Regions from separate parts of the Homo sapiens genome. Here all the other regions are linked to region 1. The links come from fine-mapping of genetic effects on gene expression. A gene starts in region 1. Each other region holds a variant in brackets. All regions are shown on one strand. Distances are from middle to middle.

Region 1 (6,506 bases):
GCTGTGCATAATCTCTCTGCTCCTGATGGTATATGCTGGTTATTAGATTCTGTAGCTGCTCTTGGATATATTCCTTCTTTTTCAGGCCCAACATATCTGTGGCCAGATTTTACTGTTAATTAAGCCTACTTATGGATATAGGTATCAGGAGGGAAGGAGAGGGAAGAGCCTGGGAAAGCTAATGTCTTGCTAGAGAAAAGGCTTTGCATTGCCTTCAAGAAATGAGGGAATGCTAGTCATTAAGAAAAGAGTAAGTCATTTCTAAAGACCAGATCAATTAAAAGAATCGAAGGACTCATAATTTTCAGTGTCATCAACTTTATCCCATGTGTCACGGTCCCATTTCTCAACCAGAGTCCTGACCTTGGCATAGAAAATATGCATTTTTTAAGAGTTTAACCTTCTTTGGAGCTCTGCTACCTTCAGTCCTAGTCTTGGTCCTCAGCTTTCTCTCTCTTCTTATTGCAGGAACTGAGAGACTCAATGCTGCCAAAAAGTTCTTCCAGCCTTCACACTTAGCTTTTAGTTGCCAACTATCTTTTTTTTGGTCTTTTTCTAGAGCATCAATCAAACTTTGAAACTGTCATTCAATTCCTTTATTCTTATAATTAGTATTTCCTCCATATTTTTCAAATTCTTAATTACAGTGAAGGCATTCCTTTCCAGTAGTATATGATTCTAGTTCATCTTGCTGGAAGTTTAAAAAAACTGCCAGGGGCTATCTGTGCTCCACAGATATTAGTGGTTAGGTATTCATTATCTGCCCAACAGTGGGTGACCCAGCTCCAAAATCCATCCACATTGGCCTCCTTTCATCTTTCCTAGCAACAAATGTCACAGGTTGATTTCCCTGGAAAGCAGACTCTGAGATAAAAATCAGCACACTGAAGACTTAATAGACAGTGCTATTTTGGCTATTATTTCTTCCAATATTCTTTCTGTTCCATTCTTGTCTCATCTCTCCCTCTTGGACTCCAACTACATATTAGATCATTTGATATTGCCCTCCAGGTTACTAAAACTGTCATCATACTTTTTTCAATCTCTTCCTGTTCTTCACATTGGATAATTTCTAGTACTCTGCATGCAATTTCACTAATCATTTCTTCTGGAACCTATAATCTGAAGTTTAGATTACCCAGTGAGCATTTCACTCCAGACATTGCACTTTTAGCTTGAAAAGTGACATTTGGCTATGTTTTCAGTCATCTCCATCTCCCTGCTGGTATTCCCTATCTGCTCAGTCTTATGGCTACCCTTTCTTTTAAGACCTTGAATATACTTGTAACAACTTCTTTAAAGTTCTTTTTCTCTTAATCCTAACATCTAGATTGTCTTGAGGTCTATTTTTATATACTGGAGGATTCTGAACACAGCAGTGACACGCTCTAAATTTATGTTTTTGAAAAAGTGCCACTCTAATAGCCGTGTGGTAAATGGAGTATAAAAGTCTATGTAAATGAGGTAAATGGATAAATAGGGATACAAAAGTCAAATATTGGGCACAACTTATGATGAGTTACAGTTAGATGGAAGACGACAGTGGTTTTGTCTTAGGTGGTGGCACTGGTGTGAATGAGAGGAATTTGGTTCTGACCACCAGGTCTTGCTGATAGACTGGACAAGGACAGAAAGAGGAGTAAATTAAAGGATAAACCCCTGGTTATTGTACTCAGTTACTAAAACGGGGTTGCCATTTGCCTAGATATCAACAGGGGAGAGAAAATATTCGAGGACAGAAGAAAACTAAGAGTTCTGTTAGTACATTTAAATGTGAGGTATCTATTGAATATCCAAGTGGAGATGTCGAATAGGCACTTGTGTATGAGTATGGAGTGCAGAGTGAGGGCCTGGATGTTAAAAATTTGGAAGTCAAAGGTATATGGGTGATATTTAAAGCCACAGTCTTAGGATAATAGATGTGAGGACTGAGCTCTGGTATACTTGTATTTATAGAGGTTTGGGGAATGAGAGGAACATAGGAAACGAGCTTGAAGTGAGGTGGAAGGAGAAATAAGAGAGAGTGGTATCCCAAAGACAAAGTGAATATGGTTCAAAATAAAGGGAGTAATTGGTTTGTCAAATGTTGCTGTTAACTGGGAAAGGTGAGAAATAAGCCTTTGTTTTATCAGTCTATTGAGATTTTGGGGTTTGTTTCTGTAGCATATTAATGTATTAATCAATACTGTGTAATATACCTTCTTGATTTTCTTGGAATTTAGATTCTAAAAGTAAGCATTTAACATTAACTAATAAAGCTACTGAGAGTCCTATATGAGAAAATTTTGGGCATTTGGTCCATAATATGATCTTGTCAATTAGAACAGTTATTTTCTACTTGTCATTTGAATATTCATTTATGGGGTCTTACTCACTTTTTCTGGTAACATTTATAAAAATTATCTTAATAATTGTATTTCTGAGGATAATAATTTATCACTGAAATGTGCATTCACCTCCCTTTTGCAGCCCAGTGATGCAGAGGTTGATACACAGTTGATATTCAATAAATGGTAAATGTGCCCATCAAATATCTATTTTATTAATGTTATTTAACATGCTATTACCACAATGATTGCACCATTAAACTAGGTTGTCAAGGACCAATCTCAGACAGCACAATATATATGGAAGTTGATTTCCTTACTGAAGGGTCAGAAACCTAATTTAAAAACATGAAAGGGAAATGAAGTATGTTGACTCACGGCCATGAGGGCCACGGCAGAAGACTGTGTAGATGCCAAGGTCCTCGCTGAGGATGTCTGAAGTCTAGGCCAATCTCTAATCTCCAACCTACTCTGTGTTAGGAGGCTTTACAGGGTGGAAGGAACACTTTTATTAGTCCACCCAAAATAGGTAGGTACCTTTTGGTAATCAGGTCTTGAGGGGGTACACTTATTAGCACAAATCAGCATATCTGCATATAGAAGACCTTGCAATGGAGTGGTATCCGGAAAAAAATATCATTTTGGGTCTGACGGGTTCAGACAACACTTTTAAATGGGATCTCTCAAAGTGTGATGAGAACCAGAAAAAAATGGCTATTTCTAGTAGCTTCGGTACAATTGAGCAAGAAACACCAAAGGATGGTCTTTTCATAACTTTAAAGCAGTGTGGTTCTCAAGTAGGGGGTATATTTGCCCTCTGGGGAATATTTGGCAATGTCTGGAAACATTTTTGATTGCCATAACTAGAGGGAGGAGCGGTCACTAGGCATCTAGCGGGAGTAGAAGCCGGTGATGCTGCTAAATATCCTGCAAATGCACAAGATGCCCCATCCCCAAGAAAGAGAAATGTCCATTCCAGAAGTCAACAGTGTCAGTTGGGAAACCCTGCTTTAAAGGTTATTTTCTTAGAAGAGGACAGCTTTAATACCTAAAATCTAATTTTATGTTTAGGCCCATGCCTATCTTCGCAGGACTCAATTCCAAGGAAATTCTGTTCATAATGCATGCTTTCTAATTCCAGTTAATTATAGCGCCTTACAGTGTGCAGAAGGCAGAGGATTGTTTTATTTGAAAGTGATCCCTTTTACTTACTTAAAAACAGATATCCTTAGTTTCAATATAAAGTTCAGATTTTTGCTTTTAATAGTATTTATATTCCCAAATCCAAGTCCTCCCAGAAATAGGTTGAGATGAAGGGAGGCCAGATATCAAATCCATTCCTAGAGATATTGTGTTCTGTGGGACCGAAAAAAGACAAAACTTGAACCTTGACTGGCCCTCTAAGGATTAAATTCTGCTGCTCTTCTTAGGGTATCTATCGGACTGTCCCTTTGGTTGTAAGATACCACTGCCATCTCGAGGAGGACTGCATGCTTCTGCACAGAGCCAACAGGTAACTCGTCCTGGCGGCTCTGTGTACCCAACCACAACCCTAGACTGCCAAGAACACTGCTCATTCGAAGGCGAGCGAAGCCGCGAAGAGGGCCAGCGTTAGGGGAAGGGTGGTACAAACCCTTGTGTGAGCTGCAGCACCGGGGCAAGAACAACGGGCAGCCCAGGCGGGTCTTGGGTCTGCGAGACCACTAGGCGTTCTGCCGGCAGTCAGAACCGCGGCAGAAAGGGCGCGAGCGGGGAACTGCGGGAACGCAGCGGCCCGGGAAGCTGGAGGGGGCGGACCCGGCCGGCGAGCGCAGGCGCTCCCTGGCTCACGCGCGCACCCCGGCCCCACCACCCACCCTTACGCCGCGGCCCGCCCTCCGGGGCGGGTAAGAGAGCGCGCGAGCAGCGGTCGTCAGGACACGCCCCTTCGCCTCCGCGAGCTGGCGGGCGGGCTGGCATCGCCGGGAGGCGGGGCCGCGGCAGCCGGCTGGGTGCGACTGGGCGGCCTCGGAGCTCGCAGACGCTCGGGGGAACATGGCGGCTGCGGAGCCGGCGGTCCTTGCGCTCCCCAACAGCGGCGCCGGGGGCGCGGGGGCGCCGTCGGGCACAGTCCCGGTGCTCTTCTGTTTCTCAGTCTTCGCGCGACCCTCGTCGGTGCCACACGGGGCGGGCTACGAGCTGCTCATCCAGAAGTTCCTCAGCCTGTACGGCGACCAGATCGACATGCACCGCAAATTCGTGGTGCAGCTGTTCGCCGAGGAGTGGGGCCAGTACGTGGACTTGCCCAAGGGCTTCGCGGTGAGCGAGCGCTGCAAGGTGCGCCTCGTGCCGTTGCAGATCCAGGTGGGTCCTGCGGGAGGCCGCGCGCTTCCCTGTTCCCGAGTCGTCCCCGTCCCCGTCCCTGTCCCCGCCTTCGCCGCGCTCCTCAGGTGCCCCGAGCCGCCCGGGACCCGGGCCCTGCGCGAGTGGCTGAGTCCGAAGGGCTGCGCGTCTTTCGCAAGTTCCGGGGCCGGCTGGGGAATGCCCCTGTCCAAAGGTGATGGTCACCAGCTGTCCCCGGCGGGGGCGTGGGCCTCGTAGCTGGTTTCAGCGCCCGCGAACGCCCCCACGTGTGTGGTCCTCGGTCGCCCGCATCCGCTTTTTATGCCAGGATCAGGTCCCAGCCTCCTGCGTAACCAAAGGGCTGTGCTGTAGTAGCTGTTTTTATTTTGGGGTGATGGGTGATGCAGAATGGGGGGAAATGAGATTGTGGGGAGTATTGGTCTTAGGGTTTGTTCCTAGAGTTGTGTTAACCACTTGCGGAAACGCAAACTTTGGGAGTCAAACCCATTCCCCCCCGCCTTCCCAGGCTCTCAGGTCCTTGGGCTTAAGAGTTCCCTAACCTTAAGCAAATAACCATTTGCTTAGCCTCCTCTTAGTAAAGTGTCTACTGACTTGATTACGTTTTGTCGTCTGCATTGAAAAAGTCATTTGACTCCATGATTGTAATTCCTTCTTGAATACAAATACCCAACTTAAGCTAGACCTTGAGTTCCTGGGCCTGCTGGCTGGGAAAGTTGTTCTACCTGAGGACTACTTAACAGCATTTATTTTAAGCTGTGCTCTCATGCTAGGCGGGTTAATCTTCCGCCCTCTTTAGGATCAGATTGTTCACTGGCGAATTTATATTTTGGAAAGGAAAGAATATAAGGTATAATTTAGGTAGTACACTGTCGATATCATTTCTTTAGCTGAGAAACTGATAAGTCATTTTTTCAGAAGACCAAACTGAAATGTGGGATTCGGGGATAAAAGGTATTTTAATATTTAAGTGTCATTTTCTTTCTTTTTTGTTTTTAGTTTTTATGGGCACATAATAGTTGTACATATTTATAGGAGACGTGATATTTTGATTCAAGCATACAGTGTAGTGATCAAATCAGGGTAATTGGAATATCCATTACCTGAAACATTTATCATTTATTTCTTTGTTCCAAATTCATTTTTGTAGTTATTTTGAAATATACAATAAATTATTGTTAACTATAGTCACGCTATTGTGCTACTGAACACTAGAGCTTATTCCTATTATCTGTGTTTTTTGTACCCATTAACAGTGCCATTTTCTGAGGATTATTCCCTAGTTTTTTTCCGCTGTAGTTGGCAGCTGAATTGATGATGTTTCCTGTCACCCCAACACCTGTGCCAGAAGTGTCCAAAGCAGGTACTTTAGCTTCGATAAAGTTCCTGCATTCAGAGGACAAAGTCAGAGACTGCACTCTCTGCCAGTGGAGAACCTGGAACTGGATACAGTGATCTGATACCCCAGAATCTTACCTGCTGCTCAGATAGGGAATTGCAGTTCTTAGGTGCTTAAGACTCCTCATTTTTATGTCTTCAAGCGTTTTCGTGTCTGACACCTCTCTGCAGCCTTCCTTGTCAGTCCTTTTACGTTACTGCTGCCAGAATACTCAGATGTTGGATGCACCTTTGAGAAGTCCATTTATAAAGGCTAGAATCCAAATACTAACTGCGGAGGTCTGGGACTAAGGATGCAGACTTCTTTATGAAGCATTTCCTGTTACGGCTTGGAGGGAGGCTGGGCTCTTATCTAAGATAATGCTATTCTAAACTAGGCCCCAGCTCTGTAAGAGTCCCCGCCTTCCAAGATAGGATTTTTATATTTGAAAATTTCAGGGC
Region 2 (6,506 bases), 170 kb before region 1:
TTGTAATAGTTTAGAAATAGGTTGCTTGTAATCACTTGGGATGTAAAAAGGCAAAAAATTTTACCCCTGAGGGATACAAAGGGAAGAAACATGATAATTGTCCTCATTATTTATTCCATGACCTAGACACTTACATACATACTGACACTTCGGAGATTTATTTTTTTCATTATTCTTAAAGGAATCATCATCAGTGTTTACTGATAGACAATATTCCTCGTTTAAATTGTGCTAAAATGTAGGATTACAATCAATCCCAGGTTATTTAATAAGGTAGTTATAGACAGAAAACCAGTTGTTTCACATATTGCAAATCTTCAGTGCAACTTCACATAATCCATTAGGGATAGACTTACCATAGTGGAAGCATCTTCTTTAGAAAGTGAGCCATCTCTAAGCATGCAGCTTTAACAGGGCATCTGGCATGGAGGTAGAAAGCATTCTGTAAACAAAATAAAGGGTTATAGAAATTCTCAATGTCCTTTTACGCTATGATTCTCTTATTCATGAGACTATCCTCTGGGGGAAAATGATGACTGGAACTTGGAGCACTCAGGAATATTTGCCAAACATTGCAGAACATTTCAAGGGGTCAAGATTTATTTAGCTGAAGCCCTAAATGAATATATTGATTATGAATAAGTGTGTGTGTGTGTGTGTGTGTGTGTGTGTGTGTGTGTGTGTTTATGGTTTGGAAAGTGCATTAGGGCTACTGTAACATTTTCACAAACTTGGTGGTTTAAAACCATAGAAATTTATTATCTTACAGTCCTGATGGCCAGAGTCCAAAATCAAGATGCTAGAAGGACCTCACTCCCCACAGAGACTCTAGGGAAGAGTCCTTTTCATGACTTGACTAGTGGGCACATCACTCTAATTTATTGCATCTCACCTTGCTTCTTCTGTGCATCTGTCTTCTCCTCTCTGTGTCTCTAATAAAGACACTTGTCAATGGATTTAGATTCCTCCTAGATAATCCAGGATGATCTCCTCATCTCAAAATCCTTAATTTAATTATGTTGCAAAGACTTGCTTTTCCAAATATAGTAACAGGATTGGGGAATGGGCATATTGTTTTGGTGGTCACCATGCAGCCTACCACAAAGGAAGATATTTCACTTTTATTTTTGCTTTGTTTTCACCTATCTGGCATTATTAGTGTTTTAACTGTATTTTTTAGCTTTGTGTTTATGTCATTATTGCCACAGTAATAATATAGTAATGTTTATTTCACCAAACAATGGTGTACTGGAAAGAAAGGCATTTTAGACAGAATTTGGCCTTGATATGCCATTCATAATCATCTAGAAATGGTACATTCTTCTTGACATTGAATATCAAGAAGTTGAATGGACTACCCAACTAATTGAAGACATAAATATGATTTGGTAAAATTATGATTATTTGGAAAACACTGAAGGAAGTCTGAATTAAGCTTACGGATCTTCTCAGGTAGGGCTCCGGCCGCCTGTCTACATGAAAGCACATTAGCATTGACCTCAGAGGACACAGTGATGTCTCCCAGCTCCAGTGGCATTTGTGTAGATAAAGACAAATATATTTTCCTCTGTGGATCTACTAACCTCAAATAATTTAATTTAACCAAACTAGTTGAGACATTTCTTCCAAGTCTTAAGCTTTTCCAGTGCTAGGCTGACTTGGTGATCACTCTTTCCTTCTGAAAATGTTACATATGACATGACACTAGTGAGTCCAAAATACTAGAAGCTCAGTTTGTGTTGAGGGCTTGATAAAAACAGTAAGATATACTTCTATTTTAAGTATATTCAACTTATATTTAAAATATACTTCATTAGGTTGTTTATAAAATAGAGCCTCAAATATTGTACTGCCTTTTTAAACATGTTTTTGGGGTCTTAAAATTAGATTTACAATGATTCTATTGAACAAAAAATATGAATCTTTCTCAGGATAAATTTTTACTTAGCCCGTGTGTAGCCGGCTATGGTAAACGTAATACTTTGTTTCTTGTACTTACTTTCCTGTGGAGAATTCTGTCCCTTGGTGATAATGGAGGACAATTTAAGGATTGTCTCAGAATATCATAATTTTTGTATGTTTCAAAGTTGCTCTTAAACTTTGAAATGAGGATCTTAGAGATGAGGTCAAATGGCCTTAAGACAGGATGTGTCATTCTTCAACACTATCTCTGTAGCCAATGCAGGAAAACTGACCAAAATCTACTCTTTCACAATTAGCAAGGAGGCATGTTTGCAGCTATTATAATAGAATTAGATATTGCATGTGTGTTGTAAAAAGCCTTTGCTTAGAACAATTGTTCAAACATCTATTTGACTGGCCAAAATGGAAATACAGCATAATTCTATTTTTATGGCCCTCTATTTTAACAAAATGCCAGTTGCATAGCAATGGAACTGTAGTATCCCCCAGTTTCAAATATGCTTAGCATCAGCTGGAAAGAGCTTTTCTCTTTCCACTTCCACTTCACTTGTATTTCCTTCTCAAGGTTGGTTTTTCTAATTTGAGCTCCCTTTTAACAAACAACTAGAAATATTCTCATATCTGGCTCATCCTTCTGCTTTTACCTTTTTCCCTGCTTGTGAGGCGTATTTATTTTCCTATAACTAGTCAGATTTGGGTTCATGGTATAAATAAAAGTGAGTTTTTCTGAACAAAAATGTCAGCTTTTATATTTTCATATACAAGAAGTATTGTGGCAGATGACGCAATAGATGACACCAAATTAAATAATTTTTGTGTATGTGCTATCATGTATAATTTAGAAATTACTTTGGATATGTAGGAATAGTCAGACTTATGGGAAAAAAAATTTTTTTTGAGATCAGTTCTGTGTAGAGCATCATTCTGTCCAATCTGTGTAGAGCATCATCTTGCCTAAATCTATAATTTGGTAGTCAGAGATGAAATAAAGATATCCTAGGTATGGAATCATCATATAGAGCTGTCTCTCAGTATAAGCAGGGGATTGGTTCTAGGACCCCCACACATACCAAAATTCACACATACTCAAGTCCTGCAGCCAGCCCCGTGAAATCCATCTATGGAAAAAAATCACACCCTCTATATAAGGCAGGTTTTGCATCCTGCAAAGAATGCATTTTCATCTGAGCGCATGGTTGAAAAAAATCCAGGTATAAAGTGGACCAGCACAGTTCAAACCCATGTTGTTCAAGTGT[C/T]AACTGTCTTACAAATGTTTTATTTAAATGTCTAAAAGTTCTAAAAGCATATGTCAATTTAGCACAGTTTTATGACTCTTAGAAACAAATTCATGAGTCATTCAAATCCATTTAGCAGAGAAAATTGAAGAAATAAGTATTAATTCTTCATATTTTTATGTATTCTCTTAGATTTCTAACTTAAAATGACAAACTTTCAAGGGCAATTGTTTGAGAGTAACAGCCATTTCCCATGACTAATTCGATTACCATTAAATCCATGTTTATTTCCAATGTTCTTAGCTGTGCTATCCACAAACATGTGAATCCATTAGTCATACAATGTGGTCATAAACCAGGAAAGAGACAGTGGAATACAATGAAACAAGCACAGACTTAGGAGTCAGTCTGGATATGGGTCCATATCCAGGCTTGGTAACTTTCTAGTTGTGTAAACTTGGGCAAATTATTGTAATTATTCTGAAAAACACCTAACTAGAATAAATAACATAAAGGTGAGCTGATATTATGTAAATAAAGTTAAAAGAGAAAATGACTCAGTGTCAAAGCCCTGGCATGCTGCCTGGAATTCAATAGATAATGATTTTCATTAGAAGCAGAAAACAGAGAATTTGGATAGAGCAGTTTATTTTCTGTCTGCATCAGAATCTCAACTTGGGCACTATTGATATTTGGGGCAGAATAATTCTTTGTTGTGGGGCACTGTCCTGTGTATTGTAGCATGCTTAGCAACATGCCTGGTCTCTACCCACTAGATGCTAGTAGTGTACCTCCCTCTCAATTACTCTTCCCAAGCCCTGCCACTCTACCACTTGGCACCTTAATTGTGACAATCAAGAATGTGTGCAGGGATTGCCAAATATGCGTCAGGGCAAAATCTCCCTAATTGAGAACCACTGGTCTGCCTGAAGAGTGAGGTCCATTGTCCAGTAGCTCAGGCCCAGCCTTGTGTCTCTGTCCTTCAATTTCACCTTTGGCTAGTTACACAGTTAATGGCAGAACTCCCCCAATGTATAGGGATATGGTCATTGTGTATTTTGGGTACTCATTCTAGATTTTACCAGAGGAAAATTTCTTTATCACCTAAGTTCTTTCTAAATGGGAATAAAATATCAGGAACACGAGACATGAAATGAGATGTATTACTTAATTAATTTGTGCTCAGTAAATTCCATGTGAATTTGCAAAGAAGTAAGTAACCATTTTAGGCAAATAATTCGTACATAGCAATTACTCTTGTTTAATTCAGAATGCCTCAAGACATTCAATTTTTAAAATTCAAGGAAAAGCAAAAAAAGTCAAATGTGTATTTCAGGGTAGCAAAACTCTTCCGTGTACATTAATAATCCATTTCTTAAGTGATCCTAATACACATTGTTTGGAATGATTGAAAAAATTGTTAATATACTCGCTTTTACTTACAAATGATTATTTTCATTTTACTATGTTTGTTTTTGAGGAAAAACCTTAAAAATTACTATAAACAAACTATTAACAGTTTTAAGGAATAAACACTATCAAGCCTGTTTCTGTAAATTATAAAATGAAAACAAGCTTTTAAATGTGCTACTTAGTAATTTAGTGTCAGATATATATACTGGAGCAGATTATATTTATAATTATTTTGTCTTTATAAAAATGGAAAAATGACTTAAAAGTGGGAGGTGGAGGAAAATTTGTGATGTGATCATGAAGAAGGTCAAAATATTCTCAGTTCTATGTATATTTGTAAACCAGTTCAATACAGTACCTGGATTAATTATTTTATTATTTATACTGAGCTTTGACTCCAAATAATTTAAATAAGTCTATATAAAATATAGTAAGATTATTCAAATGTTCATAGAAAAAGTAGAAAGAAAAAATACAACCCCAGAAACATAAAATTAAGTCAGTAAAAGCCTAGTTAAAAATGCATTCATAAAATGTTATTTGTTTTCTACAGCTGGATAAGATATTTTGCAAGAAATGAGCAGAACAAAAATAAAATTAGGAAAACAATTCCATTTATAATAGCACCAAAAAGAACAAAATTCTTACAAATAAATTTTTAAAAGCAATATATAGTTTATACTCTAAAAACTACAGAATATTGTGGAAAGAAATTACAATATACCTAAATAAATGATAAGACTTTTTATGTTAATGGATTGGAAGATAACATTGTTAAGATGACAGTATTCTCCAAATTGAGATACAGATTTAATTCAGTTCCTACCAATGTCCTGGATGACTTCTTTGCCAAAATTGACAATGTGATCCTAAATTTAATTTGGAAATGCAGATGATCTAGAATGGCCCAAACAACCTTGAAAGAGAATGGAGCTGAAAGACTCACACTTCCTGATTTTAAAATTTACTTCAAATCTATAGTAATCAAAACAGTATGGTATTAGTCTAAAAATAGACATATAGATCAATGAAATAGTCCAGAAATAAACCCTCACATTTACAATAAATTAATTTTTAAAAGGGTGTCATGACCATCCAATGGGTAGAGAATAGTGTTTTCAACAAATGGTGCTAGGTCAACTGGATATTCACATTAAAAAATTGAGTTGGATACTTAGCTTACAACACACACACACAAATTAACACAAAATTGATCAGAGACCTAAATATAAGAGCTTAAACTATAAAACTCTTAGAAAACATGTATATCAAACTCTTAAAAACTTAGGTATAAATCTTTGTTATACCTATGGATGTGGGAATGGTTTCTTAGAGATGACACCAAAGATACAAGAAATGAAGAAAAAATAGGTATCATCAAAATCAAACTATTTCATACTCAAATTACACCATCAGGAAAGTGGAAAGAACACCCATAGAATGACAGAAAAAATGTTCAAAGCATGTATCTGAAAAGGGATTTGTATCTAGACTATATAAAGAACAATTACAACTCCATAATTAAGAAGACAAATAATCCAGTTTAAACAAGGGCAAATGTTCCAAATAGACATTTCTTCAAAGAATATATACAAACATCCTTTTGTTTAATGCTGGTATTTATCAGGGAAATGCAAATTGAAATCCATGAGATACCACTTCACACCTCCTAGAATGACTATAGTCAAAGAAACCAAAAATAAAAATTTTTAGGGAGGATTTGGAGAAAGTGGAGCCCTCATACACTGATGGTGGGAATATAAAATTTGAAAAACAGTTAGGAAAAGCCTAGAGCTTCTTCAAAACGTTAAACATAGAGTTACCACATGATCTAGCAATTCTACTCCTAGGTATATACCCAAGAAAAATAAAAACATGTCCACACAAACATTTCTAAGTGATTGTTCATAGCAGCAGCATCTATAATAACCCAAA
Region 3 (6,506 bases), 200 kb before region 1:
AGTGGAAGCCATAGTTGAAGAGATTATGCCTAAGCATTTTCCATAACTGAAAAAGATTCAAGCTACAGGTTTATGAACTCCAAGTGGGATAACAAAACCCCACCCAGACATATAATAAAAATATTTAAAAACTAAAGATACAAAGAAAAAATTTCAAAAATGGATAGGAAACAATATCAGATTACTATTGAAGGAGCACCTGTTTGACTAACTGTTGACAAACTTCTTAAGAAATAAGAAAAGCCAGAAAACAAGGGAAGGTTATATTCAAACAGCTAAAAAAAAAATGGTCAAAATCAAATTATGGTCTCATGCAAACCTTATTCCAAGAAAGAAGGAAAATAAGACATTTTCAACTAAAGAAATCATGATCAAAGTAGTATTTTTAAAATAGCAAAGCATATTCTTTGGGAGAAAGAATATAATATCAGATGGAAATTTAGAGTAATATGAAAGATTGACTAGTGATAAGATAATTAATAAAGCAGAAGATATGGAGAAATTACTCAGAATGCAAAGTTGTGAGAAAAAGAGATGAAGAATATAAGAGTAGCTAAGTAGTGGATAGAATGAACATGTCTAATATATGTTTAACTGGAGTCCCAAAGAAAGTAATTGAGAAGAAGAGATAATATTTAAAGGGATAGAGAATCTTACAGAACTGGTGGAAAATGAAGATTCAGGAGCAAATCATAGGAAAACTGCAAAGTAAAGATCTTCAGACAGGATATAAAGACAGATTGTAAATAAGACTGAGAATTTAAACAATATTTGGGGACACTAGAAAGTAGTGAATTTCAACTTGAGGGATGTAAAAGAAATATAACCGTTGACATGAACTGTATTCCCAGGTACATTTTTATTCAACAATGAAGTTGAAATGCATCCATTTTCAGGCAACCAAAAATTTATATTTAATTACCAGTAGACCTTAACTAAAGAAATTTTGAAAGAAAAATGGATGTCTGAGATGTAGGATGAAATAATGTGCAAATAAATGGTTGAACTTGTAGGTAAACTTAAATTAACATTAATTGTTTTTAAAAAATGATAGCAATGCCTAATACTGTGCTTAAAGAAACAACAAAAAAATACTAAAATAATGGTATGAAAGGCTGAAAGGGGTTGGTGATTGTAATTTAATATGCCCAAGAAGCCCTTAGTCATTTAGGAATAACAGAGATATTAAATGTTATTAGATTTTAGGTAATGCATGCACACATAACTTTTAAGTCAATAAAAAATAGAACTAGAATGTATAACTTCCAAAGCAGTAGACATATAAAACTGAAAAAGTACTAAGTATGACTTAAAAAATTATATTGTACATCAAGTTATAATGAACATGAAGCTACAAATAAAGCCAGTAATATTTTCCTCATTCATACTCAAAATCTGATCTCTATTTTAATACTTCTTACTACATAGAGTTTTATAGCATATAATTTTCTTATTTGCTTTTTGAATTTTATGATGTCAATTTTTAAATATACAACAAAGCTATTATAACAAATTAATGTCAAGCAATTTTTTATTGTTTGTGTTAACTAAACAAATTCTCACATCTTTTTTGGTGAGTTGCATTTGATTAAATATGATTATATTTGTGTCTTCTGAATGCTGCCATCTATATAACATCATTATACTAAAATATCCATAGCTTTACCATTCTCATCTATTTGTGCCAAATAGTATATGTGTTTGTTTCTCTTGGTATTCAATTTATAAAGAAATCATGTGTTGTTATTCTAAAATTTTTAGTTGTTGTGGATATATAGTAGGTGTACATATTTATAGGATGCTTTGATACATGCATGCAACGCATAATAACCACATGAGGTAAAATGGCATAACCATCACCTCAAGCACCCATCCTCTGAATTTCAAACAATCCAATTATACTTTTCTAGTGATTTTTAAATGTACAATTAAAGTATTTTTACTATAGTCACTCTGTTGTTCTAGCAAACACCAGGTCTTATTTATTTTTCTGAACAATTTTTTGTGCCCATCAATCATCTCTACTTCCTGCCCACCATCCCCACTACCCTTCTCAGCCTCTGGTAACTGTCCTTCTATTCTTTATTTCCATGAGTTCAATTGTTCTAATTTTTAGGTCCCACAGGTAAGTGAAAATGTATGATGTTTGTCTTTCCATGCCTGGCTTACTTCACTTAACATAATGACCTCCAGTTCCATCCATGTAATTGCAAATGACAGGATCTCATTCTTGTTTATGGCTGAATAGTATTCTGTTGTGTATATGTACCACATTTTCTTTATTTGTTCATTTGTTGATAGACAATTAGGTTGCTTCAAGTCTTGTCTATTGTGAATAGTGCTGCAATAAACACAGGACTGCAGATATCTCTTCAATATGCTGATTTCCTTTTTGGGGTGTATGTACCTAGGAGTGGTATTGCTTAATCATATGTTAGCACAACTTTTAGTTTTTTGAAGAACCTCCAAACTGTTCTCTGTAGCAGTTGTACTAATTTACATTCCCATCAACAATGTAGGATTCCCTTTTCTCCACATCCTCACCAGCTTTTGTTATTGCTTGTCTTTTGGATAAAAGCTATTTTACTAGGGTGAGATAACCCATAATTTTGATTTGCCTTTCTCTGATATCAGTGATATTGAGACCTATGCATATACCTGCTTGCCATTTCTATGTCTTTTTTTGAGAAATGTCTACTCAGATCTTTTGTTCATTTTTAATCAGATTATGAAATTTCTTTTCTATTGAATTGTTTGAGATCCTTAGATATTCTAGTTATTAATCCTTTGTCAGATGGGTGGTGCAAATATTTTCTCCACTTCTGTGGGTTGTTTCTTCATTTTGTTGATTGTCTACTTTGCTATGCAGAAGCTTATTAACTTGATGTGATCCATTTGTCCATTTTTGCTTTGGTTGAGTGCACCTGTGGGGTATTATTGAAGAAGTCATTGTCCACTCCAATGTCCTGGAGAGTTTCCCCAATGTGTTTTTGTTGTTGTTTCATAGTTTGAGGTCTTATATTTAAGTCTTTAATCCATTTTGAATTGATTTTTGTATAAAGCAAGCAATACAGATCAAGTTTCATTCTTCTGCACATGGATATCTTTTTCCATTTATTGAAGATATTGTCCTTTCTCCCAGTGAGTGTTCTTGGAAACTTTGTTGAAAATGAGTTCACTGTAGGTGTGTGGATTTGTTTCTGGGTTCTTTATTATGTTCCATTAGTCTATGTGTCTGTTTTTATGCCAGTACTATGCTGTTTGGTTACTATAGCTCTGCAGTGTAATTTGAAGTCAGGTTATGTGATTCCTCCAGTTTTGTTCTTTTTGCTAAGAATAGCTTTAGCTGTTTTGGGTCTTTTGTGATTCAATATAAATTTTAGGATTATTTTCTTTATTTCTCTTAAGAATGACATTGGTATTTTGATAGAGATTACATTAAATCTGTAGACTGCTTTGGGTAGTATGGACGTTTTAACAATATTGATTCTTCCAATCC[C/A]TGAACTTGGAATATCTTTCTATTTTTTTGTGTGTCGTCTTCAGTTTCCTTCATCAATGTTTTAAAGTTTTCATTAGAGAGATCTGTCACTTTTTTGGTTAATTTCTAGGTATTTAATTTTATTTGTAGCTATCATAAATGGGATTACTTTCTTGATTTCTTTTTCAGATTGTTCACTGTTTTCATATAGAAATGCTACGGATTTTTGTATGTTGATTTTGTATCCTGCAATTTAACTGAATTGGTTTATCAGTTTTAATAATTTTTTGGTGGAGTCTTTACATTTTTCCAAATAAAAGATCATATCATCTGCAAAGAAGGATAATTTGATTTCCTCCTTTCCAATATAGATGCCTATTATATCTTTCTCTTGTCTGATTGCTCTAGCTAGGTCTTCCAATACTATGTTGAATAACAGTGGTAACAGTGGGCATCCTTGTCATGTTCCAGATCTTAAAGGAAAGGCTTTCAGTTTTTCCCCAATTCAGTATGATACTAGCTGTGAGTGTGTCACATATGGCTTCTATTTTGTTGAAGTATGGTCCTTCTATACCCAGCTTTTTGTGGGTTTTTATCATAAAAAGATGTTGAATTTTATCAAATGCTTTCTCAGCATCAATTGAAATGATCATATGGTTTTTATCCTTCATAGGTTATTGATATATAATGTTGACATAAAATATGATATATTGCATAAATTTCATAGATTGATTTGCATATGTTGAACCATCCTTGCATCCCTGGGATAAATCCCACTTGGTCATGATGAATGATATTTTCAACGTGGGGTTGAATTCAGTTTGCTAGTATTTTAATGAGGATTTTCTCATATCACTGATATTGACATGTAGTTTTCTTTTTTGTATTTATTTGTTTGGTTTTGTATTGGTGTAATTTCAGTCTTGCAGAATGAATTCAGAAGTATTCTCTCCTCCTCTATTTTTCAGAATCGTTTGAGCAGTATTGATTTTAGATCTCCTTTAAATGTTTGGTAGAATTCAGCAGTGAAGCCATTGGGTCTTGGGTTTTTTCTTTGCTGGAAGACTTACTTACAGCTTCAATCTCATAACTTGTTATTGGTCTGTTCAGGTTTTGGATTTATTTATGGTTCAGTCTTGGTAGGTTGTATGTATCTAGGAATTCATCCATTTCCTCTGGATTTTCCAATTTATTGGGATATAGTTGCTCATAGTAGCCACTAATGATCCTTTGAATTTATGTGTTATGAGTTGTAATGTCTTCTTTCTCATCTCTGATTTATTTGTTTAGGGCCTCTCTCCATTTTTCTTATTAATATTCTGGCTAACGGTTTGTTCATTTTATTTAACTTTTCAAAAAACCAACTTTTTGTTTCATTGATCTTTTGTGTTGTTTTCTTCATGTAAATTTCATTTATTTCTGCTCTGATCTTCATTATTTCTTTTCTTCTAATTTGGGGTTTGGTTTGCCCTTGTTTTTCTAGTTCGTTTTTTTTCTGAAGTCTTGCTCTGTCTCCCAGGCCAGAGTGCAGTGGCACAATCTTGGCTCACTGCAACTTCCAGCTCCTGGGTACAAGCAATTCTCCTGCCTCAGCCCACCGAGCAGCTGGGATTACAGGTGCACGCCACCACACCCAGATACTTGTTGTGTCTTTAGTAGGGTTAGGGTTTTGTCATGTTGCCCCGGCTGCTCTTGAACTCATGGGCTCCAGTGATCCACCTGCCTCGGCTTCCCAAAGTGCTGGGATTACACGCGTGAGCCACCACGCCTGGCCTTCTGGTTCTTTAAGATGCATCGCTAGGTTGTTTATTTGAAGTTTTTCCTCTTTTTTGATGTAGGCACTTATTCTCTTGTCTGATTGCTCTAGCTAGGTCTTAAACTATATACTTCCCTCTTATTATTGCTTTCACTGTATCCCATAGGTTTTGGTATGTTATGTTTTCATTATCATTTGTTTAAAAAAATTTTTAAATTTCCTTTTTAATGTCTTCATTGACTCACTGGTCATTCAGGAGCATATTGTTAAATTTCCAAGTATTTGTATAGTTTCCAAAATTCCTCTAGTTATTGATTACTAGTTTTATGCCATTGTGGTCAAAGAAGATGTTTGATATTATTTCAATTTTTTGAAAGTTTTAAGACTTGTTTTGTGACTTAACATATGATCTATCCTTGAAAATGATTCATGTGCTGAGAAAAAGAATGTATATTCTGCAGCCATTGGATGAAATTTTCTGTAAATATTTATCAGGTCCATTTGGCCTATAGTGCATATTAAGTCTGAAATTGCTTTGTTGATTTTCTGTCTGGAAGAACGGTCCAATTCTGAAAGTGGAGTGTTAAGGTGTCCAGCTCTTATTGTATTGGGGTCTGTCTCTTTAACTCTAATAATAATTGCTTTATATATCTGGGTGCTACAGTGTTGGGTGAATATGTATTTATAATTGTTATATCCTCTTGTTGAATTGACTCTTTTATCATTATATAGTGACCTTCTTTGTCTCTTCTTACAGTTTTTATTTTGAAATCTATTTTTTTTCTCATATAAGTATAGCTACTTCTGCTGTTTTTTGGTTTCCATTGGTATGGAATATCTGTTTCCATCCCTTTATTTTCAGCCTGTATGTGTCTTTACAGGTAAAACGTATTTCTTGTAGGCAACGGAATCAATGGGTCTTGTTTTTCTATCAATCCAGCCATTCTATGTCTTCTGACGAGAGTTTAGTCCATTTACATTAAATGCTATTATTGATAAGTTACTTGTTTTTTGGTTGTTTTGTGGTCTTCTCTTTCTTCCCTTTTTTTCCTTCCTGTCTTCCTTTTAATGAAGGTGATTTTCTCTGGTGGTATGATTTAACTTCTTTCTTTTTATTTTTTGTGTATCCATTGTATGTTTTTTGGTTTGAGGTTACCATGAGACTTGCAAATACTATCTCATAGCCCATTATTTTAATATGGTAACAACTTAACACTTTGCATAAATAAACAAAAAAACAAACAAAAAGAAAGCTAACAGAAACTCTACACT
Region 4 (6,506 bases), 190 kb before region 1:
AGTAGGTCATGTGCCCTCTAGTCCACTGGCTCTGAGACCAGCTCAGTACTAGAACTTGCCTAGGAGTTTTAGTCCTTGTGGCCTAGACTGCCTTTCAAGTTTATATACAGCACTCTAGCCTGCAGTGGTGAGGCTTTCTGGAACTCATGTTCTGACCGCTGGGATGGTAATTCCCCTCTGACAATGGCCAGTCTAAATGCTCCCTCTGTGGGCATGTATCAGCTATGTACAGCCCAGTTCTGTTTCCCCTATGACAGAGCAGCACTGAGTTCAATGTAAACAGTCTCACAATTGCTGTGCTCTCCCTCTCCAAGTACTCAGATTCTCTGTGCCATGCTGCCGCTGCTGGAGGATGGTGGGAGAGGTAGTATTGCTGATTCAAGGCTGTCTTTCCTGCCCTTTTCAGTGACTCTTTCAGTAATATGAAGTTAAAACCAGGGACCGTGAGTACCACCTGATTTTTGATTCTTATGAAGGTGCTTTTTGTGTGTAGATAGTTGTTACATTTGGTGTTCCTGTTGGGGTACACCCGGTGCAGCTTTCTATTTTGTCACCTTGCTCTGCCCCTTTCCATGTGTTATCATTTGTGCAGAGAAATATTGAGGGTTAAAAATTGAGAAGAAATTGTCATCTTTTGTCAGAAGCATTAGAATTATAATGTGAAAGGCTACATAGACTTTGGGGCAAAACTAAGAGATGGTAAAGGAAACGGGAAAATGTATCCATTTGAGAGAAAAAACTTAGAAGGCCATTTTTGAAAGCGAATAGTTAAGAGCTTGGATTAGAACGCTCAATTAAGGCACATTGTGAAAAGGGTATAAGATTTAATGCATTAAATACATAAAACTAGTAAGGATTGCATGTGTACAGAGAGTTAGATAAGTCAGTAATATTTATAGAAGATTGTAATTAGTTGAAAAAACTATAGAGCACCACTCTGCTTAATCCACTGTACCACAGTAGGGAGGGTCTGGAAGGGAAGAAATGCAGAAATAAACCAGAAAATATGGTGTTTTAAAAACACAATGATTTAGAGGAAGAAAGCTGGGCATGTAGTTAACTGCTATGGAAAGCAAATATATGCTCCAACAAATGTTTAAGTAAAGCTCTTAGGAAAGAATAAAAGAGATGAGATTAATTGTGGCTTAGGGAATCTGGGAGGAGAAAATATTTGAGCTAGATGTTGAAGGATGAAGAAGATTGCTGCAGGCTGTTTTAGTAAAGAAACATTCAAAAGGTCAGGTAAGTGGATTAGCAATGTCTTAGACATCAGAAAGGGAAAAAATGTGTTCAGGGACGAGAAAGTTGGGTACATAGAAAAATGAAGAGGAATGTTAGACTGGAAAAGAATATAAGAAAATGGACTTTTTCTGTGGCGTGAAGAAAGAAAAATAATCCGCCAATGATGGCAGGAGGTTATGTGATGAGCAAAGTAAAGTGTCTAAAAACAATAAATCAGAATAGAAATAAGTAAAGTAACCAAATAATTTATACCCCGAATTGGGATACTTTTGAGAACAAATTTGGGCACTAAAATCATCAAAATGTTATACATTTTGAAAATACTTATAGGATAGTAAATTGGTTTTATATTTTTGATATAACTATAAAAATTATCCTACTTAAAATTTATTTTCATAGATAGACTATGTTTATTTACATTAAAACAAAACTATTGATTAGCTGAAAATTTAGAATAACATAAGCAAAATAATTGATTCTGTGATACATATATTTTATATACTTTAATCAGTTTATAGCTATTTCTGCTTTTAATACCTTGTCATTGTTAATTTATAGAGAATAATTTTTCAATGCAATGTTCTTATTGATTTTTCATAAAATTATCTGCAATCTTCTTGAAAATTATATTTTATGATGCTGAATTTGCCTGATCTGTTTGTAGATTATGATAGTTTTACTTGATGAAGCATTCTGCCTATGAAAGCTGACATGCTTAATAAGTTCAGAGCAAATTCTACTAAATGGAAGACTTTCTCCATTTAAATTAGTTTTTATTTAAACTGTGAAATTTTTCAGCTTAATATTTTAGGAGTTATTTTGACTCAATTCAGAAAACCATCTTTGACAAATATTGCTCCAAAAATTCATTTAAAAATCCTATGTATGCTTCTTTTCAATATTTTGCCAGATTTGGCAAACTATGGCCCTTTTTAATTTTATTTTAATCCAGTATAGAATTTAAATTTATTAAAAATAGGAGCTACATTAAAGATTCTTCCTGCAGATTGAGATGTTGTAATTTTCAGTTGTAGAATGACAAACTTAAATCTTGTAATCTTGTACATTCTTTTTTTTTTTTTTTTTTTTTTGAGATGGAGTCTTGCTCTGTCACCAGGCTGGAGTGCAGTGGCATGATCTTGGCTCACTGCAACCTCAGCCTCCCGGGTTCAAGCGATTGTCCTGCCTCAGCCTCCCAAGTACCTGGGACTACAGGCATGTGCTACCACTCCAGGCTAATTTTTGTATATTTAGTAGAGATGGGGTTTCACCATGCTGGCCAGGATGGTCTGGATCACTTGACCTTGTGATCTGCCCGCCTCAGCCTCCCAAAGTGCTGGGATTACAGGCATGAGCCACTGTGCCTGGCCAATCTTGTACATTCTTTAAGCTCACATTATCTATTTTGTTCAGTTCCTCTTTAGCTTCTGTGAAGATGATTTTTATTGTTTCAATGTTTTCAGGTGATGCATTACGTCAATTCTTCAAACATTTTTGGTGCTCAATTTGTGGAACACTTTAAATGTTTCCAATTTATTTTAAAGAAAATTTCTTCTAAACTTTAAAGAATTAACTTACAGAAATATTCAATGACATCATAGAAATTTAAGGTTGATTTACAAGGTAGTTCTTCCAAGGCTCAAATATATCTAATCTACAATTAATATTCAATTAATAAAGTATCTGCAGCAAGGCTGAAATGATTTGTAAAATATTAAGCATTAGATTACTTGCAAAGATTTTTAGATTAGTTTATCCAATTATATGTGTAATAATATTTGTAATTTGTAAATTTGGACAATTAACATATTCCATTTCAGTCAGTAGAATTGTGAAACTTGTTTGAACTTGGTTTTGAATTATGTGTTCATCATGACCAATTCCAGCTGAATTGTCCTTTTATTTTTAAGATTATTATTTTATCATGAAGCTGTGTTTATTCTAAATTTCTCTTCATATTTTTATTACCAAATCATATTTTTATTTTTAAATTTTTCAACGAATTTTACAATAGCATCTACATTGTCAGCTGTTTTACTTTTGCGAAGTGAACTAAAAACTTCTCTTTGATTCCAATAATTAGATGAAAAATATTTGAATGATTATTGATATGAGTTTAACTGATTTCTATTTGAAGCACTTAATGATACTGATAAAGAAACAGCATTAATTAACTGCTTACAGTGTTTTTCTTTTGCTAACAGTGGATGCATTAAAACCTATTGCTTCATTTTC[T/A]TATGTTCACAAGAAACCTGGGAATTGAAACTGAATGTATTTAATTTAAAAAATTGTCTTTTGATGTACATGAAAGTTATGCTTCACAGGTTGATATGTAGACACATTTTCTATGACTGCACACACAAATTTTTTTTTCTGGCACAGTCTCAAAATAATAAATTTTTGAGGTAGATGGCTGATGCTTCTTTAGATGATCTGTGTCTTCTGGTTTTCATATATTAGTGATACAGTAGAGATCTCATGGTGGATAGGAAATGACAAACATTTTGTGCAAATTACTTTTTGTCATCTAGTTTCTTGGAAAATAAAAATTCAATATTTAATTATCATGAAATATTCACTTTCATCTTTAGCTCATTGCTGCTGAAAATTTGTTGTGAAATTTCACAAATTGAGAAACAATAAATAAATCAATATTGTAGAGTTATATGATGTAATAATGACAATAGCACTATATTAAGAGTACAAGCTACTTCCTCTCTTCATTTTATAAAACAACAGCTCTGGTTCTATTTCCTACACATTTGTCATATACTTAACCTATACATTCCTGTGTTTTACCCCAGATGCCCCTCACCACCATCTATTATGAGCATAGTTTTATGTGGGACTGGTGATTGGCAGATTTGTGTATTTTATAAACCAACATAGGACCAAGACAGTGTATAATGCTCCGCCCTCCACCACCACCCAGACCAAGAGGAGATGGCTTCCTCTCACCACTTATGTACCAGAAACATAACACCCTGCATGCCGACCTGGAAAGGGAAATGTTAGATTTTATATGGCTGAGGGTGCCAGGGAAAGAGAAGGGGTTATGTTACCTGTCTTTAAATTTAAATTAGGTTTCAGGTTGAAAGTATTCATTCCCCATAATTCTCACACTTTTCTAAATAAGACTAACAGAAACTACCAAACCCACCTTAGCTTATTTTAACACAAGTATTTAATAATATTTTGTAAAAAATGAAGAATCTGGAACAAATGTAAATCATGACAGGGTGTCTTAGGTAACTGGCAGAAACTGGTACAGTTCTGGGCAAACCGAGATGTAGAGTGTTCTGGTTATTGATTGCTAGGTATGAAACTATACCAAAAAGTAGTGGTTTACAACAACTCACTCATTATATCTCATGGTTTTGTGCGTTGGGAATTCAGGCAGTGCTCAGCTGAGAGGTTTTTCCACTGCATGTGGCATCCACTGTGGTCACGTGGTAGTATTCAGTTGGCAGCCACTCTGGTTTGGAGGGTCCACATGGATTCACTCTTATTCCTGTTTCCTGGGGCTACCTTTCTTCCTCCCCCTCCAACGTAGCCTCTGGGCTTCTCCACACATTCTCTTCCTCAGGTTAGTCAGATTTCTTACTGCCCTGGCCCAGGGCTCCCAGAGACTAAAGTGAAATGTGTCAATCCTTTTTAGGCTAGACCTAGAACTAGCTCAGTGTCGCGTCTGTAATATTCCTTGATCACAGCAGTCAAAGACTGGCCCAGATTCAAGGGGAAGGGACATTGTGCTCAGCTTCAATGGGAGAAGTGTCAAAGAATTTGCAGCCATCTTTTAAAAAACCACATATTGTCACAAGAGGCTCAGGTTAACATCAGAATATGGGTGCACAGCCGTTCACTTACTGTTAAACCAAATAGTATCAATTGTTTATCCTTACTCAAAGATGGCAACACTAATTATAAATGGTGAGTTTCATCGCAATATAAATATTTTACCTATTAATCAATAGCTGTTAGCTATTAATATAGCTACAAATAGTGATTAGCATCATCTATGTGCAAAACACTGGCACTGTACTAATTGCTATAGAGTAAAAATATGAACCAAAGCTCCTAGCTCCAGAGCCAAGAATTTAGTGAGAAGATAATCATGCTCAAACAAGCACAAAAACAAAGGAATGGTATTCACAGGGATGGTTACCATCCAGTCCTCATTCAAGAGTATGTGCAGGCATGCTTATGATCGTAGGAACACTGAAAATTAAAACAACTTAAGATGAATACATAAATATCACGGCCATATGACATTTTATATCCTTCATTGTTAATCTTCCAAAGCATTCAGCTGTGGTAATATTATTTAATAATCGACCACATAATTTTAGGACTAGTTAATGTTTTTATTTAAGAACCTTCTATTTATTCTTAAAATTAAAGTCTTCTATAACTTTAGAGGGATAAAGATATAATTTGTAAAATGTGGCATTAATAAAGTTGGACTTACAGAGCTGAAAGAACAAATGTATTGTGTTAAGAGATAAAGCCACTTGTCTGCCAGACACATGAAATCCTATAGAGACTTCTCACACAAGTCAGGCACACACACACAAGCATGCAAATGCACATACACACACAGAACATTGTAGGTGTTCTCATTGTGACTTTGGCTTATGATTATCCCTATATGCAAAAAAAAAAAAAGGCCGGCCTCAAAAAGAAAAAATGGAAAAAGCCAACGTTATCTGCTCTAAGAAAGAACTGGTCTGACTCTATGCAGCTAGATAGTAGCCCTACAGAAAGAAATCTCTAAAAAAGCATTAGCTTTAAATCTTTAAGGAATTATGAGATTTTTGTCCCTCCAAGAAATGCATCAAAAATTGGAAAACAGTGTAGAATAGGACCAGAAGGTAAAAGAAGAGAGACACTACTAAATGGATTCTATCTCAGGAAAGTTAAGGTTGAAAGCCAGAATCTCAAATGGCAAAAGGTAACCCGGCAATTCATTCTAGAGTTTCCAATAATAATAAAACCATCTTAGGCCCCTCCTAAAAAAATTGTCAAGGGTCATCTATGCCGATTAACTTGGAAGAATACTAAGTGAAGGTGTTACAATGTGGTTCTCACTTCACATTTTCAGTGTATTTATCTTTTACTTGACTCAAAGCAGATTACAGCAGAAATATCACTTGACAGAGATTGCAAAAATAGCCCATTTTTTTCTTTCTCTTTCTTTCTGAGGGTTGAAATATTTCTAGCTAGTGCCGCAAAATTGTTCCCACTACTCTGCTTGGCATGAGGAA
Region 5 (6,506 bases), 32 kb after region 1:
CACACACAGCCAAGCAAAACTTACATGTGTTTTACTTACCTGTGTCTCATGATGTCAATATTGGATTCAGCAATTTATTTCTGTAGGTAGACAGCATGGTTTACATCAAACATTGCATACACACATGTATACAGTCATGACACCTAATGACAGGGATACATTCTGAGAAATGAATGATTAAATGATCTCATTCTTGGTCATTGTGCTAACATTATAGTGTGTACTTAACACAAAACAAGATAGTGTACCCTACTGCACACCTAGCCTGTGTTGTGGCTTCTAGGCAACAAACCTGTACAGCATATTATTGTACTGAATACTGTAGGCAAATATAACACAATGGCAAATATTTATATATCTAAACATATGTAAACATGGAAAAGGCACAGTAAAAATATGGTAAAAGATAAGGTACACCTGTATAGAGGAGCCCCATTATGATCTTATGGGACCATCGTCATATATGTGGTATATTTGTTGGCTGAAATGTCATTACGCAGTGCATGGCTGTATATATATATATACACATATACACATACCTTTTCAAATTTAAAAATGGTTGGGGTTGCTGAAGGGAGTTGGCAAAGTACATAAGAAAAATGGGAGATTTCCCTCTTTATGCTGGAGAAAGAGCCAGTGGTTATGTGATGCCCTGTATGATGGAAAGCATTGAAATGGCAGACCCGCTCTCATTCTTAATAACATTGACAGTTGGGGCAAATTTCTTATCTATAAGATAAAGAGATTAGACTCATCATATCTAAGATTCATTGCAGTTCTAAATTCTATGCTTCAGATTTTTTGACTTAATAAAATTCATTTCAACATTTGAGTGCCCATCATATTAGGAACTATTCACTAGATATTTACTATGTGCCATGTACCTAAATGCTTTATATCTGTTAACTCAATAATCCTTATAAACCTACGATCTAGCTAAAGAACAGAGTAAATAAGTAGCCCAAGATCATCCATTTGGTTGGAAGTGGAGAGGCTTAAATTTTAACTTGAGATTTTAGTCTAGAATTTAGTAACTGTGCCTGTAACAGTTGTATTATACTCTTTCCCATCCTGTGAGCCAGACACCTTGCCAGGCACTAGGGAAACCTCTGAGAAAGTCATGATGATGCAGGAAGCATAGGTGGCATATTGGGAGCTTTTTATTTCTAAGTTTCTTTTTGATATATGTAGACAACCATCTATAATCTCAGATATGCTATACATAACTTGTTTTTTTCAAGACTTCGATTTTACATTAAATTCTTTCTTTAGAGAGCTCATTAAGAAATATAGAAGTTCCACTGAATGCCAACTATCTTGCTCTTTTAAAATTTCCTTTAAGCTTTCATTAATTTGCTTTAGATTTGCATTCAAAAATGCAATGTTCTTAGAAATATTTTCGTCGACTCACTCAACCCATGTATTCAAATCTTTCAGAGATAAATAGCTTATTTTATCTACAGGGAATACTCATTGACTTTGAGAAATTACTTTCTGCATATTTTATTTTTGCTGAGAAAATACCTCCATACTTATCTAAAAGTAAAAATCTTTAACTCTTCTAAGTATCTGAGTATGTTAATTAGCATTAAGGTTAGTAAAATATAAATTCGTCAGTGACATAAATGATTGTGATGTAAATTAGTATGAGTTTATTAGAATTCAGAGAATTGGGAACATATATATGGGCCCCTGTTTTCATACTGACCAATCTGTTATGTCTTGAGTATTTATAATCAAATCAGCTGCTATGATAATGAGCTCTAAACATGAATTTTCAAGCCAAAATCAGACAGTTTCAGGCCTTGGATTTGATTTTACTCTTCTTACAAGCTGATCAATTAGCCTATTACTGTTTCATGGATGCTGGCACTAGACATGAGATTTCAGGATCAGAAACAGGACTGTGTTACCCATGGCACAGCAAGCAGCATCAACATTAGCATATTTGCATCGATTCCCCTTGCCCCCCAAGTCCCATGGGGGTGAGGGAGTACGTGCCAGACAGATGCCATTCATGCAGTGGATTTATACTGAGCTTTCGTAGCAAGCAGTAAGCAAGCCTGCTCTTTGTCCAAAAGGAGCTGTTACTTCATCTCTCCAGGTTATCAGCTACATAAACATAAATAAAAATGCCCTGGATAAAAGTGTTCAGGGCCTTGAAGCCTTGGCACACCAGCCAGATAGGTAAGACCACAAGAAGCCCAAGGGGAAGTGTCTCCCAACAGACAGATGCAGTGTACTGTGGCGGAAAGGGCAGAGTCTGTGACAGGGTTCTGGTTCTTGTAGCTCTTGCTAGCAGCCTTCCAGAGGTCTGTCTGAGATATCTCTAAGCATTCTCACAGAGAAAATAGAGTTGCATGAAATGACAAAAAATGTCTACCCTTTCATCTCAAGAATAAGTATTAATGTCATACTCTTCTGTAAACCTTCCTTTAAAATAAAACCTGCAGCTTGCTTGGGGCTAAAACTTGAGCCACAGAGAATTTTCACATAACCAAGTAATATAAATACAATATCGCCTACAAGTGTTAAATGGATTTTTGGAAGAGAAAATTCATCACTGTAATTGTTCAGTGAAGGATACCATTTATAATTTTAAGAACTAATATAGAAAATGTGAACACAATTGTAAGTGCATGACTAAGAAATGTTACCTCATTTTCTTTTCAATAAAAAACAAATCAAGTGACTGGACAAGATATGAGAATGTTGTGAGCATTTTAAAAATTATTTTAGAATGTTTATTTTTTAAATGTTAGAAATAATTTATTTTTCATGAATGAAAAGCTTATTCTCTGAAGCATATTTTATAGATTTTTATTTTGATATTGAAATAATTTCTGTGAAAATATGGATTTGCTAAATAGTACTATGTTTAGATCAGTTTGATTGGTCAACACTTCTCAAAATAGGTTCAAGATCTCCTCTTTACCTGTTGAAAACATTTACTCTCTTGAAAGATCCAATAAAGATATTTTAAAAAGATACTTGGGAAGGGAGGACGTTAAATGATTTCAGTGCACACTAAGTTGCAAAACCGCAAAGCATGGTTCTGGAAAAATCAAGCCTGCTATCATTATTGATAAAATTTGGATTCCACACCAATAAGCCTTATTTTGGCTAACTGGAATGTAGAAATATTTAATTCCAGGTGCATAGGGATTTATTTATATTAAAATTGTCCAACAGCACAAGATGCTGTGTCACCGATAGCCTGTAGAGGCAGAAGTTTTAAAGGACTTTAGTACACAAAAAAACATAATGCAGGCAAACTTTAGCTACCAAGAGTTCTCTAGAATGAGTATATGGATTCATTTGTTTATCCTTTCAGTACTGCATTATTGATTACCTACATAAGGGAAGCCCTCTGCTGGAGACAGTCTGGATAAGAGAGAGCTACTGTTTCTGAAGGAACTAAGTCTAATGAGAGAGATAAAATAAAGGCCACCTAGGGTGGTTAGTGCAAAGATGAGGAACTGGACACAATTACGGAAAGTCAGATGACAAATTCTTCTCAGATAGATTAGGGCTTTTCAGACCAGAGCCTTTTCACTTTAG[CT/C]TTTTTTTTTTTTTCTTTCGGTTTTGGTTTTGGTTCATCAGTTGAATGTGTAAAGTATTTCCTGGCCTTTTCTTTAACAGGATAGGAAATCTTCCTTCAAGTTGATCATCTCTTGAAGGAGCTTACAGTCTAATTATCTAAAAACAACTGTTCTACATACACGGTTTATGCAGCTCCTATGCACAGGTGAAGAGCATACAAGATGGGTAATAAAAGCAGCTTGGCATTGATCAAACACTTTACTATGAGCCAGGCACTTTGACTAGTGCTTGACTTATGTTATCTAATTTAATTCTCAGAACTTTTTCAGATAGTTCAGAACACAGAAGTTAAGTATCTAGAGTACCCGGCTAGGAGTTGCCATATGTGAACTGTTTTATGGGCTCTGCTACTAGCTGTGTGGCCTTAAGAACGACTGAGTATCAGCCATGAAGAAGGATGGCTTGTTAATACATGTCCCAGGGCAATGTCTAAAATTTCTGTTGAAGGGTAATGATTTATGTACAGTCACTCTTGATTAAAGATAACTATGCTGGGGAGTTTCTAGTCAGGCCAAGTGACCTGGAGTCAATGTGCAGTAGGCATTGCTTAACCCAGAGCTCTCAAACTCAATTGGCCACGGTGCAAGGCAGATAATCCAAACAAATGAAATGAGACAGGTGGGGCCTGGCACACTGGAAAGTAAGCATGTACATATTAAACAGGCAAGTTCTACTCAGCGCCACCTGGTTGCTGCCAAAGGAAAATGCAGACCCAGTGGTTACAGAGACTCCAAATCTTCTAAAGAAAATGACAATCCTGACTTTTAGATGTTGGTCTGTAGGCCATGAGACCAGTCTGAGGTGCAGCTCATCAACTGCAAGTGGTACTCTTCTCATTCTTCCTCATTCATAGTTTAGGAATCTTTGCTCCTTCCTTCCTACTTCCTTCCTTCCTTCCCTTCCTCCCTTCCTTCCTTCCTTGTCTCCCTGTGCTGCCCAGGCTGGAGTACAGTGGCGCGATCTCAGCTCACTGCAAGCTCCGCCTCCTGGGTTCACACCACTTTCCTGCCTCGGCCTCCGGAGCGGCTGGGACTACAGGCGCCCGCCACTACGCCCGGCAAATTTTTTGTATTTTTAGTAGAGACAGGGTTTCACCATGTTAGCCAGGATGGTCTTGATCTCCTGAAGTCGTGATCCGCCTGCCTCAGCCTCCCAAAGTGCTGGGATTACAGGCGTGAGCCAACGCACCTGGACTTTTTTTTTTTTTTTTTTTTTTTTTGAGACAGAGTCTTGCTCCATTGCCCAGGCTGGAGTACAGTGGTGCAATCTTGGCTCCTCCTTCTCGGGTTCAAGCAATTCTCGTGCCTCAGCTTCCCAAGTAGCTGGGATTACAGGCGTCTGCCAACATGGCCGGCTGATTTTTTTATTTTTAGTAGAAATGGGATTTCACCATGTTGGCCAGGCTGGTCTCAAACTCCTGACCTCAGGTGATCCACCCGCTTCAGCCTCCCAAAGTGCTGGGATTACAGGCATGAGGGACCACGTCTGACCACTATTTCAATCTATGTAAGCACTCTCAGGCAGTGGTCTCAAGATTTGCTACCTATTAGAATCAGCTGAAGAGCTTTTAAAAATCCAAAACCCAGGTCATGTTCCCTGCCAATGAAATCAGAATCTCTATAGGTAGGACCTAGATATTGTTGATCTATTTTTAAAACTCCCCAGGTGATTCCAGTGTGAAGTCAAGTTTGAAAAACAGCGCTCTCAGACCTTGCTACTCAGTGTGCACCTCAAAATGACACCAGCATCATCATGCCTGTGGCAAATGCAGAATCTTAAGCCCAATTTCAGTACTCCTGAGATGGGACCTGTAGTTAAACAAAATTCCCAGGTGGTTCCTATGAAGGTAAATGTTTAGGAAGCATTGCCTAATAATTATCAAGTGACTCATGGAACCTCGCTTTTAAGCCTTTGGACAGTGATTATTAACCATAGCTACATATTAAAATCACCAGAGAGTTTAAATGTACCATTACTGGGTCTAGCCAAGGAGATTCTGATTTAATTGATCTATGGTAAGTCCTGGATATTAATGTTTTTAAAAATCGTACCAACATGAGTCTAATCTGCCACCAGGGTTGAAAACAACTAATTGCCTTAGTTCAATTTTTTCCCATTTTGCAGTAACATGAACTTGTCATCACCCAATAAATCTTTTTACTATATAGTCATCTGATAATTCATATTAGAAAAAGTCACTGGGAGAGTTGTACCTGCTACCAAAGCTATGGTAGCTCTTATATCTGGCCGTGAATGTTTTCTGATTATTTATTCTAATTAAGTCTTCAGGTAGCACTCTTGAAGCTGGAGTTAAGGGGTTTTTCTGCCCTAGTTTTAAAATAGGTAGTCTTCCTCTCTGTGGTTTTTAAGGCTTCTGCACAACAAAATCATCTAGGGACTCTTTCAGAAAATAAGGATGACAGGATGTATCCACATATACAGTACTTTCACAGAGCCCAAGAGATCATTGTGATGGGGTGAAGGGCAAAATCACTGCTCCAGTCCCTTATGACGTAGGCCCATAATGAGCTATAGGAATGGCTAAATCAACCAGGTCTCTTACTTGAGGGAACTTAGAGACCACCAGGAATAAATTAAATATCAAATTACTCCCATGAACTCCAATTTCTTCATCTGTTAAAAAATAAAAATAAAAAGAGATAACACCTCTTGTGTTATTCTTTATAAGAAGAATTCATACAGTGTTTATAAAGTGCTTAGCACAGTGTCAACTCCTCAATACTTAAAGCCTAACTTAACAGGGCAGGTTTTTTTCCTGACAGAAGACATTCATTTTAAGTAGTATAAATCAAGGATCTTGGCTCTTCTGTCTTCAACTTCTACATGTAGCAGTTTTGTTAATTTATTTAATGTTGCATGCCCTTCAATCATAAAACAGAAAA

Which allele goes with the higher level. Positions count from the first base shown, and alleles are read on the strand shown. Sizes are in standard deviations (SD) of each study's normalised expression. Not every link is listed here.
With allele C in place of CT in region 5, the expression in monocytes after interferon gamma of the gene that starts at base 4,344 in region 1 is higher (small effect, 0.38 SD a copy in Fairfax 2014).

What was found. PIP is the estimated chance that this variant, and not a neighbour inherited with it, causes the effect.
Region 2: its variant is fine-mapped to the expression of ISOC1 in whole blood (INTERVAL, PIP above 0.99).
Region 3: its variant is fine-mapped to the expression of ISOC1 in whole blood (INTERVAL, PIP 0.98).
Region 4: its variant is fine-mapped to the expression of ISOC1 in whole blood (TOPMed, PIP above 0.99).
Region 5: its variant is fine-mapped to the expression of ISOC1 in monocytes after interferon gamma (Fairfax 2014, PIP 0.95).

The regions. Positions count from the first base shown.
Region 1 is chr5:129,090,406-129,096,911 of GRCh38, forward strand. ISOC1 (isochorismatase domain containing 1) reads left to right here and starts at 4,344. Exons shown (of 5, transcript NM_016048.2): 1 at 4,344-4,670. The coding sequence starts at 4,362. LOC124901060 (a long non-coding RNA gene) reads right to left here and starts at 6,374. Exons shown (of 2, transcript XR_007058926.1): 1 at 6,144-6,374; 2 at 2,521-4,994. RefSeq lists a silencer at 3,962-4,741.
Region 2 is chr5:128,917,037-128,923,542 of GRCh38, forward strand. All of the region lies in intron 6 of LOC105379168 (a long non-coding RNA gene), which reads left to right. Among named protein-coding and RNA genes, the nearest start is that of SLC27A6, 45 kb to the right of the region's middle. The variant C/T (reference allele first, on the strand shown) is at 3,180.
Region 3 is chr5:128,887,653-128,894,158 of GRCh38, forward strand. All of the region lies in intron 6 of LOC105379168 (a long non-coding RNA gene), which reads left to right. Among named protein-coding and RNA genes, the nearest start is that of SLC27A6, 75 kb to the right of the region's middle. The variant C/A (reference allele first, on the strand shown) is at 3,500.
Region 4 is chr5:128,896,678-128,903,183 of GRCh38, forward strand. The region is part of intron 6 of LOC105379168 (a long non-coding RNA gene); the gene reads left to right. Among named protein-coding and RNA genes, the nearest start is that of SLC27A6, 66 kb to the right of the region's middle. The variant T/A (reference allele first, on the strand shown) is at 3,478.
Region 5 is chr5:129,122,560-129,129,065 of GRCh38, forward strand. No RefSeq gene overlaps it. Among named protein-coding and RNA genes, the nearest start is that of MIR4633, 28 kb to the left of the region's middle. The variant CT/C (reference allele first, on the strand shown) is at 3,562.